Linked DNA regions of Homo sapiens: regions 1 and 3 are each linked to region 2. Evidence: fine-mapped expression QTL. A gene starts in region 2. Each other region holds a variant in brackets. All regions are shown on one strand. Distances are from middle to middle.

The links.
Region 1: its variant is fine-mapped to the expression of ZNF594-DT in fibroblasts (GTEx, PIP 0.98).
Region 3: its variant is fine-mapped to the expression of ZNF594-DT in minor salivary gland (GTEx, PIP above 0.99).

Annotation. Positions count from the first base shown.
Region 1 is chr17:5,211,133-5,219,064 of GRCh38, reverse strand. It overlaps SCIMP (SLP adaptor and CSK interacting membrane protein), which reads left to right. Exons shown (of 5, transcript NM_207103.3): 4 at 4,067-4,140. ZNF594-DT (ZNF594 divergent transcript) reads right to left here. Exons shown (of 6, transcript NR_152840.1): 3 at 4,856-5,015; 4 at 3,772-3,918. Among named protein-coding and RNA genes, the nearest start is that of SCIMP, 20 kb to the left of the region's middle. The variant A/C (reference allele first, on the strand shown) is at 3,409.
Region 2 is chr17:5,188,911-5,196,045 of GRCh38, reverse strand. It overlaps ZNF594-DT (ZNF594 divergent transcript), which reads right to left and starts at 4,039. Exons shown (of 6, transcript NR_152840.1): 1 at 3,883-4,039. ZNF594 (zinc finger protein 594) reads left to right here and starts at 4,178. Exons shown (of 2, transcript NM_032530.2): 1 at 4,178-4,298. RefSeq lists a silencer at 4,044-4,243.
Region 3 is chr17:5,366,646-5,371,645 of GRCh38, reverse strand. It overlaps RABEP1 (rabaptin, RAB GTPase binding effector protein 1), which reads right to left. Exons shown (of 18, transcript NM_004703.6): 12 at 3,178-3,276. Among named protein-coding and RNA genes, the nearest start is that of NUP88, 51 kb to the left of the region's middle. The variant C/T (reference allele first, on the strand shown) is at 2,233.

The DNA.
Region 1 (7,932 bases), 23 kb before region 2:
TACAGGCGTGAGCCACCACGCCCGGCCGGAGACACTCTTATTAGGAAGAATATTCCAAGGGTTTAGAGATTATTTCCCAGGAGCCAGTCAAGAGCCAGTCCTTTCTTTGGAGTATACACACTATCTAAAACAAAACTTACACTTGGGGCGAGGTGCAGTGGCTCATGCCTGTAATCTCAGCACTTTGCCAAAGTGGGAGTATCACTTGAGGCCAGGAGTTCAAGACCAGCCTGGACAACATAGTGAGACCCTGTATACAAAACATTTTTAAATCTCTGCTTTTCTAAAATGGCTTTTGTTGTAGCTTCAGGGATCCAGCAAATAAGACTCCCCCTGCCTCCATCAATTCTGATCCCTTTCAAGAATAAGACAAATGTGTCAGGCAGTCAGGTGACTAAATATTGCCTTTTTTAAGAATAAAACTGGGGCCAGGTGCAGCAGCTCACACCTGTAATCCCAGACTTTGGGAGGCCGATGCAGGCAGATCACCTGAGGTCAGGAGTTCGAGACCAGTCTGGCCAACATGGTGAAACCCTGTCTCTACTAAAAATACAGAAATTAGCTGGGCATGGTGGTGTGTGCCTGTAATCCCAGCTACTTGGGAGGCTAAGGCAGGAGAATTGCTTGAACCCAGGAGGTGGAGGTTGCAGTGATCCAAGATCGTGCCACTGCACTCCAGCCTGGGTGACGAGTGAAACTCAGTCTCAAAAAAAAAAAAGCAAAAAACTAAAACTGGTATTGGCCAGGGGCAGTGGTTCATGCCTATAATCCCAGCACTTGGGAGGCCCAAGTGGGAGGATGGCTTGAGGCCAGGAGTTTGAAACCAGCCTGGGCAACATAGTGGGGACCCATATCTGAGAAAAATACCAAAATTAGCCAGGTGTGGTGGTGTCTGCCTGTAGTCCCAGCTACTTGGGAGGCTGAGGTGGGAGGATTGCTTGAACCCCTGAGGTCAGGGCAGCAGTGAGCTGTGATCGTGCCACTGAACTCCAGCCTGGGTGTCAAAGTGAGACCCTGTCTCAAAAAAAAAAAATGTTGGTGGGACGGTAAACTAGTTCAACCATTGTGGAAGTCAGTGTGGCGATTCCTCAGGGATCTAGAACTAGAAATACCATTTGACCCAGCCATCCCATTACTGGGTATATACCCAAAGGACTATAAATCATGCTGCTATAAAGACACAGGCACACGTATGTTTATAGCAGCACTATTCACAATAGCAAAGACTTGGAACCAACCTAAATGTCCAACAACGATAGAATGGATTAAGAAAATGTGGCACACATACACCATGGAATACTATGCAGCCATAAAAAATGATGAGTTCATGTCCTTTGTAGGGACATGGATGAAACTGGAAACCATCATTCTCAGCAAACTATCGCAGGGACAAAAAAACAAACACCGCATGTTCTCACTCATAGGTGGGAATTGAACAATGAGAACACATGGACACAGGAAGGGGAACATCACACACCGGGGACTGTTGTGGGGTGGGGGGAGGGGGGAGGGATAGCATTAGGAGATATACCTAATGCTAAATGACGAGTTAATGGGTGCAGCACATCAACATGGCACACGTATACACATGTAACAAACCTGCACGTTGTGCACATGTACCCTAAAACTTAAAGTATAATAATAATAAAACAAACACACACACACACACACACACACACACACAAGCAAACAAAAAAGAATAAAACTGGGATTGCAGAATGTGGCTCTTTTCTGTGAGCTAGTGAGTTTCCTAATTTGGAACCGGGTGACTTTCCTAACCAGTTCACAGGCAGCTCCGGAAAACCTCAGGTCTCCCCCACCGAGTAGACCCCTTTTTCTGAATGGCAAAGACCAGAGCAGGATTTGTGAATTCTGCAGTCAGGCCAGCTCTGGAGGAGAAAGTGAGAGGAGCTAGACTTTTCCCAAATTTAGCAGTCAGATGAGTTGCTTTCTTCTCTTAGGAAGAGCTACAGAGGGATGGTGAGAGCCGCCGGTGGAGCTCTACCCCCATGTCCCCGTCTGCACTCAACCTAACAACCTAAAAATGTTTATTCATTCTCAGGGGGACTTTATAGCATATAGGAGTCAAATCAGTGTACCTAGGGGGATGGAGGCCCAAGTAAGGAAGTTTTCTTAGAGTTTATCTTTTAGTTAAAACTTTGTACCAAAGTATCATATAAATACAGGAAAATGGAAATACTGAGTGTGCAACCTGATGAATTTCCACGAACTCAACAGACCCAGGTCACTGGCACCCAGATCAAGAAATAGGACGTTACCAGCACTTCAGAGGCTGACTTTATACAGCCTTTCAACCATTACATCCCAAAGGCAATCACTGTCTGTGATAGTATAAATTAGCTTTTTGGGTTTTTTTTGTTTTTTGTTTTTTTGTTTTTGAGATGGAGTCTCACTCTGTTGCCCAGGCTGGAGTGCAGTGGCGCGATCTTGGCTCTCTGTAACCTCCGCCTCCCAGATTCAAGCAATTCTTCTGCCTCAGCCTCCTGAGTAGCTGGGATTATAGGCATGCGCCACCACACCTGGCTAATTTTTGTATTTTTAGTAGAGACTGGGTTTCATCATGTTGGCCAGGCTAGTCTCGATCTCCTGACCTCATGATCTGCCTGCCTTGGCCTCCCAAAGTGCTGGAATTACAGGCATGAGCCACCGTGCCCAGCAGCTTTTTGGTTTTTATGCAATCTATTAATGGCATCATATAGTATATATTATTTGGTGTTTGGCTTTTTTGCTCAACATCATTTTTATGAGATTCATTGTGTGTAGTTGTAGATTGTTCATTCTTGTTGCTATAGAACATTCCACCGTGGGAGTACACCAGTATTTATTTATTTATTTATTTATTTTGAGACAAGGTCTCACTCTCAACCAGGTTGGAGTACAGTGGTGCAATCATAGCTCACTGTCACCTCAAATTTTGGGCTCAAGTGATCCTCTTGCTTCAGTCTCCTGAGTAGCTGGGACTACAGGTGTATGCCACCACAACCTGCTAATTATGTTGATTTTTTTGTAGAGACTGGGTCTCCCTGTGTTGCCCAGGGTCTCCCTATATTACCCTTAAACCCCTGGGCTCAAGCCATCCTCCCTCTTTCGCCTCCCAAAGTGCTGGGATTACCAATGTCAGCCACCTTGCCCAGTCACTTTACCATAATTAATCTATCCATTCTACTGCTGATGGACATTTGAGTTGTGTGATGGCAAATTTTATGTGTCTGTGCTTCTCTGGACAACCCAGACTAATACAGGTCGTGTCCAATTCAGAGCTGTTATGAATAGTGTTGCTCTGAACATTCTAATGCATGTTTTGGTGAACAGATGCGAGCATTTCAATAGTCTGTAGACCCAGTAGTGGAAATGCTGACTCAAGGTGTGTGTACATTCTGCTTTAGG[A/C]GTTCATCTGCTTTTGTTTTTTGTTTTTTTATTTGTTTGTTTTGAGACAGAGTCTCACTCTGTTGCCTAGGCTGGAGTGCAGTAGCATGATCTCGGCTCACTGCAACCTCCGCCTCCGAAGTTCAAGTGATTCCCCTGCCTCAGCCTCCCGAATAGGTGGGATTACAGGTGAGCATCATCATGCCCAGCTGATTTTTGTATTTTTAAGTAGAGACAGGGTTTCACCATATTGGCCAGGCTGGTCTTGAACTCCTGACCTCAGGTGATCCGCCTGCCTCGGCCTCCCAAAGTGCTGGGATTACAGGCATGCGCCACCATGCCCGGCTCATCTGTTTTGCAAATAGAAATACATCTGGTGCCTACCTCTCCGAATCCAGCTCAGGTGAACCAGGAAGGTGTGCTCCATGCTCTGAATTATAGCACTTTATTTCCCTCCCCTCATTTTCAGCCATTTCCAGGGCTACAGAAAACGGTTTCATTAGGGTGCCAATTACAAATGGGAACCAGGACCTACAAAGGAAAGGAAATGCTTCCAATTAGTAGAGACCAAGATTTGAATGTTCAACCCATTCACTTTCCTTGATGTTTTCTCTTAAATCGGCTGGGAGCAGGCATGGCCCAAACCAAACACTGATTCTCTCTCTTTCTCTCTCTCTAGGAATGTTCTTAATGAGTCGCCAGTTCAATTACCGCCTCTGCCACCGAGGAATTGGCCTTCTCTAGAAGACTCTTGTAAGTATATTTTACTGGTAGCAGTTTCATTTAGGGTAAGATAACGAGTTTATCAAGGTGTCTTTTTTTTTTTTTTTTTTTTTTTTAGATGGAGTCTTGCTCTGTCACCCAGGCTGGAGTGCAATGGCACGATCTCGGCTCACTGCAAGCTCCGCCTCCCGGGTTCATGCCATTCTCCTACCTCAGCCTCCGGAGTAGCTGGGACTACAGGCACCCGCCACCACGCCCAGCTAATTTTTTGTATTTTTAGTAGAGAAGGAGTTTCACCGCGTTAGCCAGGATGGTCTCGATCTCCTGACCTCGTGATCCACCGGCCTCGGCCTCCCAAAGTGCTGGGATTATAAGCGTGAGCCACTTTTTTTTGTTTTTGAGATGGAGTCTCGCTCTGTCCCCCAGGCTGGAGTGCAGTGGCGCGATCTCCACTCACTGCAAGCTCCGCCTCCCAGGTTCACACCATTCTCCCACCTCAGCCTCCTGAGTAGCTGGGACTACAGGTGCCCACCACCACGCCTGGCTAATTTTTTGTATTTTTAGTAGAGACGGGGTTTCACCATGTTAGCCAGGATGGTCTAAATTTCCTGACCTCATGATCTGTCCACCTCGGCCTCCCGAAGTGCTGGGATTACAGGTGTGAGACACCACGCCCGTCCCCTATGAAGGTGTCTTAGATAGCTCAGGCTGCTGTAACAAAAATACCATAGACTGGGGTGCTTACACAACAGAAATTTGTTTTCTCGTTGTTCTGAAGCTGGAAGCCCGAGATGAGGGTGTTGGCCGATTTCTGTGAGGTTTCTGGTGAGGGTTCTCCTCCTGGCTTGCAGACAGCTGCCTTCTTGCTATGTCCCCACAAATGGCCTTTCCTTGGTGCATTCAAGCTGGGGAAGAGCATCAGGGAGTCAGATTTCTGGTGTTTCTTCTTACAAGGACACTGATCCTGTTGGATCAAGGCCTCATCCCTATGGCCACATATAGCCTCACTGGGGGTTAAGGCTTGAACACCTGAATTTTGGGGGGACACAAACATTCAGTCTGTAACACTAGGATTTATAGATGCAGCATCCTGATTATTTTATTTTTGAGGCAGAGTCTTGGTTTCTCACCCAGGCTGGAGTGCAGTGGCATGATTTCAGCTCACTGCAATCTCCACTTCCTAGGTCCAAGCTATTTTCCTGCCTCAGCCTCCTGAGTAACTGGGATTATAGGCGTGCACCACCACACTCAGCTAATTTTTTGTATGTTTAGTAGAGACGGGGTTTCACCATATTGACCAGGCTCGTCTTGAACTCCTGACCTCAAGTGATCCACCCGCCTCGACCTCCCAAGGTGCTGGGATTACAGGCATGAGCCACCACACACAGCCAGCATCCTGTTTAAAAGAGATAGCCAGAGGCCAGGCACAGTGGCATATGCTTGTAATACCAACACTTTGGAAGGCCAGGGCGGGCTGATGACTTGAGCTCAGGAGTCTGAGAACAGCCTGGGCAACATGGCAAAATCCTATCTTTACAAAAATTAGCCAGCGTGATGGTGCACACTTATAGTCCCAGCTACTTGGAAGGCTGAGGTGGGGGGATCGCTTGAGCCTGGGAGGTCTGCAGTGAGCCACGATAGCATCACTGCACCTGGACGACAGAGTGAGACCCTGTCTCAAAAAAAAAAAAAAAAGGGATGGAAAAGCAAAAAGGGGGCAGCATAAGTACCGACGCACCCAATAGCCTGATATAAGGGTGTAAATTCATGTTCAAATCCCAGCTTGGAACATAAACAGAAAGAAACATGGGGTGTCACTAGGCCTTTCACTTCCTATCAGAAAAACTCTGCCTGGTTCCTTTGACTGGAATGTTCTTCCTTAAGCTCTTTGCCTCGCTGGATTTTCCTCATCCTTCAGATGTCAGCTCAGAAGTTACCACCTCAAAGAGGCCCTCTCTGTCCACTCAACCTAAAGTAGTTCTGCTAATTTCCTTTATGAAACTGACAGTTATCCAAAATTGTGTTATTTACTTATTGTTCATTTATGTATTATTGATCTCCTCCACTGGAGTATAAACTTCAGGAACACAGGAACCTTTTTTGTCCACCACTATTAATATTTATCCACTACCTAGAACAGGGCGTGAGGCTCAGTCGATACTTAAGAAAAATATTTTGATTGGATAGATAAATAATATTAGCTAACATTTATTGAGCATGCGCTGTGTTTCAGGTCCCACACTAAGCACTTTACAGGTATTAGCTCATTCACTCCTCACAACTCTACAAGCCAGGTACATTTTTTTGTTTGTTTGTTTTTTGAGATGGAGTCTCGGTCTGTCGCCCAGGCTGGAGTGCAGTGGCGCAATCTCGGCTCACTGCAAGCTCCACCTCCCGAGTTCATGCCATTGTCCTGCCTCAGCCTCCTGGGTAGCTGGGACTACAGGTGCCTGCCACCATGCCTGGCTAATTTTTTGTATTTTTAGTAGAGATGGGGTTTCACCATGTTAGCAAGGATGATCTCGATCTCCTGACCTCGTGATCCACCCACCTCAGCCTCCCAAAGTGCTGGGATTACAGGCGTGAGCCACCGCGCCCGGCCCAAGCCAGGTACATTTTTATTCCTCTGTGACAGATGAGGATGCTCAGGCACAGATAAGTGACTTACCTATAGTCACACAGCTAATGACTGCTGGAACGTGAACATGAACTCTGGTCTGTCAAACTGCAGAGTTCTGCAAATAGTGGCATTTCAGGTTTTCTTAGGAAAAGATGAGATTGTGGGAGAGGCAGTTCCAATCCCCATCAAAGATGGAGCTGAGCTGTTTCATCATCCTTCTATTACTTATGGACCTGTTCTTTTTGTTTGTTTTTTGTTTCTTTTTCTTTCTTTCTTTCTTTTTTTTTGAGACAGAGTCTCGCTCTGTTGCCCAGGCTAGAGTGCAATGGTGCAATCTTGGCTCACTGCAACCTCTGCCACCTGGGTTCAAGCAATTCTCCTGTCTCAACCTCCCGAGTTGCTGGGATTATAGGCACCCGCCATCACGCCCAGCTAATTTTTGTATTTTTGTAGAGACAGAGTTTCATCAGGCTGGTCTCGAACTCCCGACCTCAGGTGATCTGCCCACTTCAGCCTCCCAAAGTGCTGGGATTACAGGCATAAGCCACCGCGCCCCAGCCTCCTATGAACCTGTTCTGTACTAATTCCACCTTTTGAAAACAACGCCATCCCCTTTCTTCTTAGAGAGATTTGTACATAAGCAATTACAGAGAGTCCTGGAAAACAGTGTAAGTCACTGGAAGGGATGTGCCAAAAAGGAAATATGATTTGTTTCACTTCCTTGTAAAAATTAGGATCTGTAACACAACAGCACTCATATGACTACTGGGCTCTGGTCTGTTTCTTTTCATCCATTCTTTTTTTTTTTTTGGAGACAGGGTCTTACCATGTTGTCCAGGCTGAAGTGCAGTGGCGTGATCATGGCTCGTTGTAGCCTTAACCTCCTGGGCTCAGGAAATCCTCTTGCCTCAGCCTCCCAATTAGCTGGGACTATAGGCATGCACCACCACATCCGGCTAATTTTTAAATTTTTCTGTAGGGACGAGGGTCTCCCTGTGTTGCCCAAGCTGGTCTGGAACTCCTGGGCTCAAGTGATCCTCCCACCTGGGCCTCCCAGAGTACTGGGACTACAGGTGTGAGCTTCTGCACCTGACCTGGTCTGTTTCTTTTCTAAGCTTTTGCTTCATGGTTTCCATGCAGTGCAGGCTTAGGCAGAAAGATACGGGAGTCAAGATGTCTGACTAATATTTTCCAGTTACTCA
Region 2 (7,135 bases):
AGCCAGTTTGTCAGAAATACAGGTCACAGCCAAGAGTTTACAATTGGCATCTGAAGTGGGCAGTAGTCTTGTGGGACTGCGGGATCTAACACTATCTCCAGGTAGATAGTGTCAGATTGAATTGAATTAGAGGACAGCTATCTGGTGTCTGCTAGAGAATTGCTCAGTATGTGGAGAAAGCCCCCACCCATCTGGTGTCAGAAGTATTGTGTTGAGTGACCGCATAAGACAGTAAAGAGGGCCAGGCTCAGTGGCTCATGCCTGTAATCCCAGCACTTTGGGAGGTTGAGGCAGGCAGACCGTGAGGTCAAGAGATCGAGACCATCCTGGCCAACATGGTGAAACCCCGTCTCTACTAAAAATACAAAAATTAGCCAGGTGTGGTGGTGCGCGCCTGTAGTCCCAGCTACTCAGGAGGCTGAGGCAGGAGAATCGCTTGAACCCAGGAGGCAGAGGTTGCAGTGAGCTGAGATCACACCACTGCACTCCAGCCTGGTGACAGAGCAAGACTCTGTCTCAAATAAAATAAAATAAAATAAAATAAAATAAGCTCCAAGACCGGGCACGGTGGCTCACGCCTGAAATCCCAGCAGTTTGGGTTTGGGAGGCTGAGATGGGAGGATTGCTTGAGCCCAGGAGTTCAAGACTAGCCTGGGCAACATAGTGAGACTCAGTTTCTCCAAAAGTACAAACATTTTCTGGGTGTTGTGGTGTGCACCTGTGGTCTCAGCTACTTGGGATGCTGAGGTGGGAGGATTGTTTCAGCCTGGGAGTTTGAAGCTGCACTGACCTGTGATTGCACCGCCATACTCCAGCGTGGGCCACAGAGTGGAGCCTCCCATCTCAGTTAAAAAGAAAAGAAAAGAAAAGAAATCTGGTAGGCCAGGAGTGGTGGCAGGTTTGGCTCATGCTTGTAATCCCAGCACTCTGGGAGTCTAAGGTGACAGGATTGCTTGAAGCCAGGAGTTCCAGAACAGCCTGGTCGATCTAGGCAGACCCCATATCTACAAAAAACTAAAAACAAAATTAGCCAGGCATGGTGGCAGTACCTGTAGTCCCAGCCACTCAGAAGGCTGGAGGATCACTTGAGCCCAGGAGGATGAGGCTGCAGTGAGCTATGATCATGCCACTGACAGAGTGAGACCTTGTCTCTTAAAAAAAAAAAAAAAAAAAATCTGTCAGGGTTAGTTGTCGTCAGAACCATTTTACATGTGTACGAATGTTTTCTTGTAATTCTTATACTACTTTTAAAATAACAAAATAAAGTTTAAAAAAATTTATTTTAAGAACTGAGATCTGCATAAGCCAGAAAAATGAAAATGGGAGGCAGTGGGTGTGGGGAAGACAGCAGCTGCATTTTTTTATTGAGAAATATATAAGTCTTGCCAAAAGTGGTTATTTTGGCTTTTTAGTCTTAAAAAGAATAGCTCTTCTTTTTGATCTCCTTTAGAGTTCACATGCTACCCCTGACAGCAGCATGGATTCATTATGTAATTTATTCATTCTACAAATATGTATGGAGTGCTGGCTCTGTGCCGGGCACTGGTGATACAGTGAATGTTGAGGAAAACCCAAGGCACTCTCAGGGAACCTGAAGTCATGTGGAGCTCTTTTATGTCATGCATGTTATCCCTTTTCCTATCATGCATGTTACAAATATTTTCCCTTTTAATACTTTCACGATCTACACCACTTCTTTTTTCTTTTTTCTTTTCTTTTTTTTTGAGAAGAGTCTCGCTCTGTCACCCAGGGTGGAGTGCAGTGGCGCGATCTTGGCTCACTGCAACCTCCGCTTCTCCAATTCAAGCGATTCTCCTGCCTCAGACTCCCAGGTGGCTGAGACTACAAGCACGCACCACGACATCCAGATAATTTTATTTTTTTTTTGAGACGGAGTCTTGCTCTATCGCCCAGGCTGGAGTGCAGTGGCAAAATCTTGGCTTACTTAAGCTCTGCCTCCTGGGTTCACGCCACTCTCCCGCCTCAGCCTCCCTAGTAGCTGGGACTACAGGCTCATGCTGCCATGCGCGGCTAATTTTTTTTTATTTTTTTTATTTTTTAGTACAGACGGAGTTTCACCATGTTGGCCAGGCTGGTCTTGAACTCCTAACCTCAAGTGATCCACTCGCCTCAGCCTCCCAAAGTGCTAGGATTACAGGCATGAACCACCTCGCCCAGCCTGTACGATTTTTTTTAAACCCATTTATTTTATTTTATTTATTTGTTATACTTTAAGTTATAGGGTACATGTGCACAACGTGCAGGTTTGTTACATAGGTATACATGTGCCATGTTGGTTTGCTGCACCCATCAACTCGTCATTTACATTAGGTATTTCTCCTAATGCTATCCCTCCCCCAGCCCCCCACCCCCCACCAGCCCTGGTATGTGATGTTCCCCACCCTCTATCCATGTGTTCTCATTGTTCAACTCCCACTTATGAGTTCTAACTCATTTTTGCCTCCCAGAGGATCCCGGTGTCTTAGCTGTGGATCTCTCAATACTTGCAGGTCACAGGGCCACAGAGGCTGGGCCTCTAGGAGCAGAGGACACGGAACAGTCTATTTTTTTTTTTATTTTTTTGAGACAGTGTCTTGCTCTGTTGCCCAGGCTGGAGTGAAGTGGTTCCATCTCGGCTCACTGCAACCTCCACCTCCCGGGTTCAAGCTATTTTCCTGCCTCAGCCTCCCGAGTAGCTGGAACTACAGGCGCCTGCCATCATGCCAGTTAATTGTTTTGCATTTTTAGTAGAGACGGGGGTTTCACCATGCTGGCCAGGCTGGTCTTGAACTCCTGAGCTCAAGTGATGCGGCCTCCTAGGCCTCCCAAAGTGCTGGGATTACAGGTGTGAGCCACCGTGCCCTGCCTTAAAAACCCATTTCTAAATTCCAAAGAGTAACTTCTATTAGTGCACTCTTATTAAGAGAGGTAAAGCAAAAGGAACTATAAAAGCAACTATAATTGAAGTCTATTTGAGACATGGCTCAGTATTTCAATGAAAATGTAACACAGTCAATGAAATACTATCTCAAATGTAGTTGTGCAAATTAAGGAATAGTTGGTAGTAGCTGCATTTACAAATTCAAGAGTGAAACGTGCATAATTCGTGCAACCCAAAGTTTGGGACAGAGAGATATGAGAAGCCAAAGTGACTAGTGCACTGACAGTTTTGCTTCGGAAAGGCTTGGGGTTGGACATCTTACATCTTTACATACATATATAACCCTTACCACGATCCTACGCTACGCGAACCAACATCATCTCCATAGTAATAACTAATATGTATCTGGCCTTCGCCACATGCAAACTTCACATACATATGTCAGTGAGGTCGGTCCTATTATTTACCTCACTTTACAAATGAAGCAACGGAGGCGCGAAGAAGCTATTAATAGGTAACTTGTTCAAAGTCACATAGCCCCTAAGTGGTGGGGCAAGGATTCTGAGTGTCTGACTTTCTCACTTCGGAACTTACACTTTTAAACATTAAGCTGTCCTTGTTGGGATCTGTATCGCCTAGCCTTTGACCGGGCATTGCAAATAGAAGTCATCAATGAATGAGACCACAAATGCATGCAGGGAACAATAACAAAAGATGAAAACAGAACAGGCAGAACAGGAGTTCGAGACTAGCCTGGCCAACATGGCGAAACCCCGTCTCTACTAAAAATACAAAAATTAGCAGGGCGTGGTGGTGGGCGCCTGTAATCCCAACTACTGGGGAGGCCGAGGCAGGAGAATCGCTTGAACCTGGGAGATGGAGGCTGCAGTGAGCCGAGATCGCGCCATTGCACTCCGGCCTGGGCGAAAGAGCGAGACTCCATCTCAAAAACAAAACAAAAGGGCAGAACAAAAACGTAGTTACTTGAAGGGGTCACTCACCCCGGACCCGACCGTGCCACAGCCCCGACGCCACGCATGTCTAGGACCAGCTGAGGACGCGGCCTCTCGGCGGTAACCTTGGTAACCAGCCAGCGCGCCGCTGGCCCTCCGGAAGTCAGACTCCGCCGGGCTGAGCCGAGCTACGCCAGCGCCGACTGGCGTCGTGGAGGAGTCTGCGCAGAGGAGACACCTGATCCGGTGGGAGACGGCCAGGGGAGCGCGCGCGGATTGGCTGGAGCCGACGGGGGACGGCTGGGCGGGGCGCGGACTGGGGGACCGCAGTCCCGGGGAGCGCACCGGAAGTTCTCGCCTGGCCCAGGCGCGGGGTCCAAGATGGTGGCGCTAGGAGCCGCGACCCAGTGATAGCGGCCGTGGAGGGGCCCCCGACCGAGCGGGAGGTTGGGGGTAGCCTGGAGGTGAGACCCCGCTGCGTTCACAGAGCTGGCGGCCGCGGCGCCTGCGTCCACCGGCAAGCGAGGAGTGGAGCAGAGCTCATATGCCTATGGGGAGAGGCCTGGGGGACCGCAGGAGGATGTAGGCGCCGGGTGCGCATGACTGGGCCTTCTTGCTCTCGGTCGGCTTCTTGGTCTCGGCGTGCCCCATTCCCGGCCCTGTCCCGCTACTCTTGCCTGTTCCAGTTCCCTCCTGTGGGTACCGCTAACGGCATCTTCCCGAGGCCCAGAATCCACCGTCAGGCATAAATTGATTATTCCTCGCCCACATCTGTGCCAGGTATATTTGTATATGTAACCAAATCTGGTTTTTGCATCCCACGAGTGACCCCGCTGGGGAGGCTAGACTAAGCCACAGGAATGAACTGTATTGTTCATATATGTTCTACTACTCAGTCTAAAATATTAGGACTGTTAGAGTTCAAACAAGGGAGGGATTTAGGTGGGCTGGTCTCTTTGTAAGGGTCTACATTGCTTTTAGGAGCAGCTTCTATTGTGACCAAGCGAGTTACAGAGAAACGCCACACTTTGAGACAAATTAAAGAGTCCTTATTAGCCGGCAACCGAGAGGCAGCTAGCGCCCAAAATTTTCTCGGCCCTGAGGAAGGGGCTAGTTTTGTTTTTATACCGTGGTCTAAATAGGGGAGGGGGGATTTTAGCTGAAGCAATTTTTACAGAAGCAGAACTGGCAAAAAGTTGAAAAATTAATTGGTTACAAATGCAGTTACAAAATATAAACAGTTCCAATTGCACGGGCTTAAACTATCACAAAGAGATAAATGCAGGGGTTTTGCTTGCCATCCACCGAGCGCGTCCCCAGGAGCTGCTGGTGCAGCTTGCCTCAATATCTTATCAGTAGGTGCATTCCTGGACGTGCTTTGAGTCAGTTTACACTAGCTATGCCTTAAGGGAGGGAGGTGAAAGGGGGCTGCCAGTGGAGAAACTAAAATGGAGTCTGTCCGGCTCTCTCTCTGCTAGGAGAGAGTCACTCAGGTTAAAACAAAGTAGGGTATCACACTTCAAAAGTCATTTCTTTTGGGAAGCCTTCCCGGATTGCCACCGCAGCGCTTTTAGCATCTAATTCATAGGCTCTTACTACCTTGTTTCATGTGTGAGTCTTCCTCTAGGCATAGATTCTTTGTTTAGCTTCACCTAATGCGTGCCCATGAATGTGAATTAAAAAGGATTGACATAGTTAAAAGATACTAAGAACTGGGCATGAAATAGTGGCATTTCTTAAGTTAAAAAATAGTGGCCCCTAGGCCAGCTTTGAGTGTAGACACATTTTCTTGGCTCATGCTGTTTGTTTTTATTTGAATTAATGGCCAACTTCCTTTTTTTTCTTAAGACAGAGTCTCGCTCTGTCAACAGACTAGAGTGCAGTGGTGCGATCTCGGCTCACTGCAACCTCCGCCTCCCAGGTTCAAGCGATTCTCCTGCCTCAGCCTTCCGAGTAGCTGGGACTACAGGCATGTGCCACCACGCCCAGCTAATTTTGTATTTTTAGTAGACACAGGATTTCTCTCCATGTTGGTCAGGCTGGTCTCGAACTCCCAACCTCTGGTACTCTGCCTGCCTCAGCCTCCCAAAGTGCTGGAATTACAGGTGTGAGCCACTGCGCCCGGCCTGTGTTTGCTCTTTTCTTTAGGAACACTAATTATATGTATTTGATTATCTTTCTTTAGTTACTGGTTTTCTCTGTAATCACATTTGTATTCATTTCATTTTTTATTATTTCTCCAGGCCTCATTGTGACCTTGTAGTGATTATTTTTGTTGTTCCTTATGTGAATTTCATCTACATAATGCTTTTTATTTGCCCTTCCATTTCTTTCCTCAGCATTGTCAAATCACTTCTCACTACTTTTTATTGTTTTCTAATCTAATTTGTTTTTGGCCAGGCATGGTGGCTCATGTCTGTAATCTCAGCACTTTGGGAGGCTGAAGAATCCCTTGAGGCCAGGAGTTTGAGACCTGCCTGGGCAACATAGCAAGACCTTTTCTCTACAAAAAAATTATTTAAACTAGCTGGGTATGGTGGTGTGCCTATGGTGTCAGGCTGAAGTGGGAGGATTGCTTGAGCCCAGGAGTTTGAGGTTGCAGTGAGCTATGATTGCACCACTGCACTCCAGCCTGGGTGACAGAATGAGAGCATGTATGAAAAAAACAAAACAAGCTGGGCACAGTGGCTCACGCCTGTAATGCTAGCACTTTGGGAGGCTGAGGCAGGAAGATCCCTTGAGGCCAGGAGTTCCAGAACACCCTGGACAACACGGCAAGCCCCATCTCTACAAAAACTTAGCCATGTGTGCTGCAGCATGCCTGTAATCCCAGCTACTTGGGAGGCTGAGGTGGGAGAATCATCTCAGCCTGGGAGGTCAAGGCTGCAGTGAACCATGATTACACCACTGCACTCCAGCCTGGGTGACAGAGACCCTGTCTCCAAAAAAAAAAGTGAAAAAAAAATGGCCTGGCACAGTGGCTCACACCTATAACCCCAGCACTTTGGGAGGCCAAGGTGGGAGGATCACTTGAAGCCAGGAGTTCAAGACCAGCCTGGGCAGTATACTGAGGCCCCATTGCTATTATTTTTTCCTTTCTCTTTTCTTTTTTTTTTTGGCTACATGACTCAATATTTTTTTTTAAATTAAAAATGTCAAATTTTTGGCTGGGCGTGGTGGCTCACCCCTGTAATCCCAGCACTTTGGGAGGCCAAGGCGGGCAGATCACGAGGTCAGGAGATCGAGACCATCCTGGCTAATGTGGTGAAACCCCGTCTCTACTAAAAGTACAAAAAATTAG
Region 3 (5,000 bases), 180 kb before region 2:
GCAGTCACGGCCATGCATATGCTCTGGCTAAAGCCCACTGGCTCTTATTGTCTTCAGACTAGAATCCACTGTGCTTTATGATCACTGTCACCCATTTACAACAAAATCTTAGTATCCCACCACCTTCTGGATATGAAAGAAGGGAAAAAAGAATATGTATATATTTGCTTGTTTTTGTAAAGAGAAAAACAGAAGGATAAGCCAAAAATAAATTAAAATAATTACGTATAAGAGTGAGTGGAAATGGGGTGAAAAGGACAGGGAATGGAAATGGAGCTGAGTATTTATTTTTATACTTTTGATTATGAACCATGTTACATATTCAAAATATAAATCAAGAAAGAAAAATCAAATCTGAAAATGTAATATAAAGAGAAACAGCCCAGGCGCAGTGGCTCACGCCTGTAATCCCAGCACTTTGGGAGGCCGAGGCGGGTGGATCACGAGGTCAGGAGATCGAGACCATCCTGGCTAACACGGTGAAACCCCGTCTCCACTGAAAAAACAAAAAATTCTCCAGGCGTGGTGGCGGGCGCATGTAGTCCCAGCTACTCCAGAGGCTGAGGCAGGAGAATGGCGTGAGCCCGGGAGGCGGAGCTTGCAGTGAGCCGAGATCGCGCCACTGCACTCCAACCTGGGCGACAGAGCAAGACTCCGTCTCAAAAACAAAAAAAAAAAAAGAGAAACAAATGGAGCTAACTATATATCAAATTCCTAATACAACCACAGAGAGAAAAACTAACATTTGAACACAGTACTTAAACTGTAAACCCTTATCTGAGATACAGTCTAAGGGCAGAACTACAAAGAAATGTTGGCCTTTACTTAGTAGATTTGCTGTTGGTAGTAATATTGATATAGTCATTCTGAAACTATTTTGTCCCCACCTTAACCGAGTGATCAAATTTAACATCCCCAGTAATGGAAGCACCCATCATTAACGTGCCTCATTATGTTATGAACCTCCCATTGAACCATTTCATCTGTGCAGTATTCTTGCCAAGATGTCTAACCTGAATCAAATCACAAGGAGATAATCAGACAAATGAATTCTACAAGACAGATGGCCTGAAACAAAGCAATTGGCCGGATTCTTAAAAATAAAAAGAGAGTGGGAGACTGTTCTAGATGAAAAGTGACTAAAGCGACATGGCAACAAGATGAAATATGTGATCACTGATTGGTTCCTGGATCAAAATATAGAAAATATAAAAAGGAAAACCACCACTAAAAAGTAATCAAGGACTTACTGGGACAACTGGTTAAATTTTAAGGATGTAATAACAGTACTGTAGCGATGCAGAACAACTCTTTGTTTTAGGAAATACATACTAAAATACTTACGACTGTCATGTCTACAATAACTCCAAACAGTCCAGCAAAAAACACAAACCAAGACATACGTACACACACACATCATATACCTACAAACATACACAGAAAGACTAAGAACAAGGGCAAGCATGCACTAACGTGGTGAGTTTCTCTTCTTTATGGTAATTTCAACAAAATGGTCATGTACTGGAGTTCATAGGACCTCAACCTTAATTTCAACAGTTCTCCAGTGTCACTGACACACATTCATTTTAAGTGAAACCAGCTTGAAAAGTGTCTGCAAGGGCTGATGGTTTTAAGAGACAAGAAGGAGGCCGGGCACAGTGGCTCATGCCTGTAATCCCAGCACTTTGGGAGGCCAACGCGGGTGGATCACCTGAGGTAGGAGTTCGAGACCAGCCCGACCAACATGGAGAAACCCCGTCTCTACTAAAAATACAAAATTAGCCGGGTGTGGTGGTGCATGCCTGTAATCCCAGCTACTCAGGAGGCTGAGGCAGGAGAATCACTTGAACCCAGGAGGAGGAGGTTGCAGTGAGCCGAGATTGCGCCATTACACTCCAGCCTAGGCAACAAAAGCAGAACTCTGTCTCAAAAAAGAAAAAAAAAAAGACAAGAAGGAAAAAGATGCAAGGGGTCGAAGGAGTGTAGGAGGCTCACCGCTATGAAACTGTCAGTATTTAGCAGTGATTTTTACGCCAGTGTTATATTGTATTTTCTAATTAGAGAAAACACATGAAACTATGGGTCAATGATTAGGATGAGATGCTTCCCAACAGACCAGGTTTAAGATTTAGGGATCAGCTCATAGGCCATTCAGATACTGACCTAATAATGCCAATTAAAAACATTCAATGACCATTCCACCCAAGGCTTTTATTTTTAAACTGTCATCCC[C/T]GGGTAAGCATCAGCCTTGTAGAATCACCCCAGCAGAGCCACCTCTACTTTAATTTAGTTGGAGGCATCAGATGTAGGCTCCAACTTTGAGAAAGGAAAAACAAAGCAAATGCAGCCAGACTAGTGAGGAGGGAGCCCAAGCCTGGGGACTATCTGCAAAGGCTCTAGCCGGCACTTGCTCATAACACTCTGCCCCCATCCCTCTCAGCATAGATGGCCTTCTGGAAGGTCCCCAGCACCACAACAGTTACATGTTTTTTTTCATAACCCCTGTGAAACTAATAAGGTTATTTTTTTTTTCTTTTGAAAGAGAGTCTTGCTGTGTCACCCAGGCTGGAGTGCAGTGGCGCGATCTCAGCTCACTGCAACTTCAGCCTCCCAGGTTCAAGCGCTTCTCCTGCCTCAGCCTCCCGAGTAGCTGGGATTTGCAGGTGCACACCACCACGCCCGGCTAGTTTTTTGTATTTTTAGTACAGATGGGGTTTCACCATGTTAGACAGGATGGTCTCAATCTCCTGACCTCGTGATCCACCCGCCTCAGCCCAGCCCTAATAAGGTTATTCTAAATAAATTAGCCATCCAGGAAAATCACAAAATGACTGGTCAAAAGCTGTACCAGCTAGGGCTCTCAGACATTCAATTTTTTAGCTTTTATTTGGAATTAAAAATTAAATTAGGTCCATAGTTTATTCTGTTTAGGTTTCCCAAATCAGAAAAATAAGTTAAACGATGAGAAAAAATTTTTGTTTGGCCAGAAAGTAGGTTTAAAAAAGGAATAATGTCTTTACAATATTTTGTCCATTATTAATGTTCTACAGTCCCGGGAGAAGACAACAGTAACTACTTTGGACAGGATGATAAATTCCTATCAAAGATGATGTCAAGATAGAACAAAAAAGGAATATATAGTAACATAGTTGTCATTTACTTAAAATGTAAACTTACCATCTGTTCCTGAACATCCCTCTTTGCCTGGGAAAGCCCCTGCTGTAACTCTTCAAGTAAGATCTCGGAGGCCTGGGCTCTTAGGACGAGTGCAGAGATCTTTAAAAAAACACATGTATAGAAACATAGTTAGGAAATCGGTTATTCTGAAACTAACTCTTCCATCTTCTAACTATTTAGTGTCTGGAATTGACATTTTATTTGTTCATGGGAACCACTGACCATCATCCAACAGCTGCATGCACATCTGCTATGTGCAAAGCCTTGGCCTTTCAGATAACACAAGGCAGTGCCAAAACCCGAGTCACATGCAGCCATACATTAACAAAGAGCATTCTATGGGTTTCTAGGCAGACAGTAACTCACGTGACCTAGTTGTAGCTATGTTTAAAGATGTTTAAAAAAAAAATCAGGCTGGGTGCAGTGGCTTATGCCTGTAATCCCAGCACTTTGGGAGGCTGAGGCGGGCAGATCACCTGAGGTCAGGAGTTCGAGACCAGCCTGGCCTGCATGGTAAAACCCCATCTCTACTAAAAGTAAAAAAAAATTAGCTGGGTGTGGTGGCGGGCACCTGTATTCCAGCTACTCGGGAGGCTGAGGCAGGAGAATTGCTTGAAAACCGGGAGGCAGAGGTTGCAGTGAGCCCAGAACGCACCCTGTACTCTAGCCTGGGCAACAAGAGCAAAACTCCATCTCGGGTTTAAAAAAAAAAGAGAGAAAATTTTATTTCACATAAATCACAGTGCAGAATTTAGCACAAAAAAAAGGCAAACAGACCAACTGAACAGAAGATAGTTCTGAAACTAATCTACACAGAGCAATGGGGGAAAGGTGGATCTTTTCACCAAGTCATACAGAAATTGGCTATCCATACTTTTTTTAAAAAAAAGTTTTACCCTTGGCTGGGCACGGTGACTCACGCCTGTAATCCTAGCACTTTGGGAGGCCGAGGCGGATGGATCACAAAGTCAGGAGTTCGAGACCAGCCTGGCCAAGATGGTGAAACCCCGTCTCTACTAAAAATAAAAAATTAGCCGGGCGTGGTGGCGGGTGCCTGTAGTCCCAGCTACTCAGGAGGCTGAGGCAGGAGAATCGCTTGAACCTGGGAGGCAGACGTTGCAGTGAGCCAAGATCGTGCCACTGCACTCTAGCCTGGGCGACACAGCGAGACAAAAAAGTTTTACCCTTATCTACACTGTGTGTGTGTGTGTGTGTGTGTGTGTATCTAAGTTCTAGAGGAATTTTAGATATAAATGTGAATAAAACCTCTATAATATAGGATATCTTCATAACTCCATAGGAAAAGATTCCTTTTTAAAAAGGAGGAAAATCACAAACCATAAAGAAATAATTAATAAATTTGATTTTTTTTTTTCTTTCAGACGGAGTTTCACTCTTGTTGCCCAGGCGGGAGTGCAATGGCATGACCTTGGCTCACTGCAACCTCCGCCTCCCGGGTTCAAGCGATTCTCCTGCCTCAGCCTCCCAAGTGGCTGGGATTACAGGAATGCGCCGAAACACTCGGCTAATTTTGTATTTTTAGTAGAGACAGGGTTTCTCCATGTTGGTCAGGCTGGTCTCAAACTCCTGACCTCAGGTAATCTGCCCGCCTCGGCCTCCCAAAGTGCTGGGATTACAGGTGTGAGCCACCGTGCCCGGCCAAATTTGACTACATTATTAAGGACTTCTGTTCATTAAAAGACACCATTAATGAAGACATAAGCTACTGATGGGCCAGGTGCATGGCTCACACCTAGCACTTTGGGAGGCCGAGGCAAGTGGATCACCTGAGGTCAGGAGTTCAGGACCAGCCTGGCCAACAA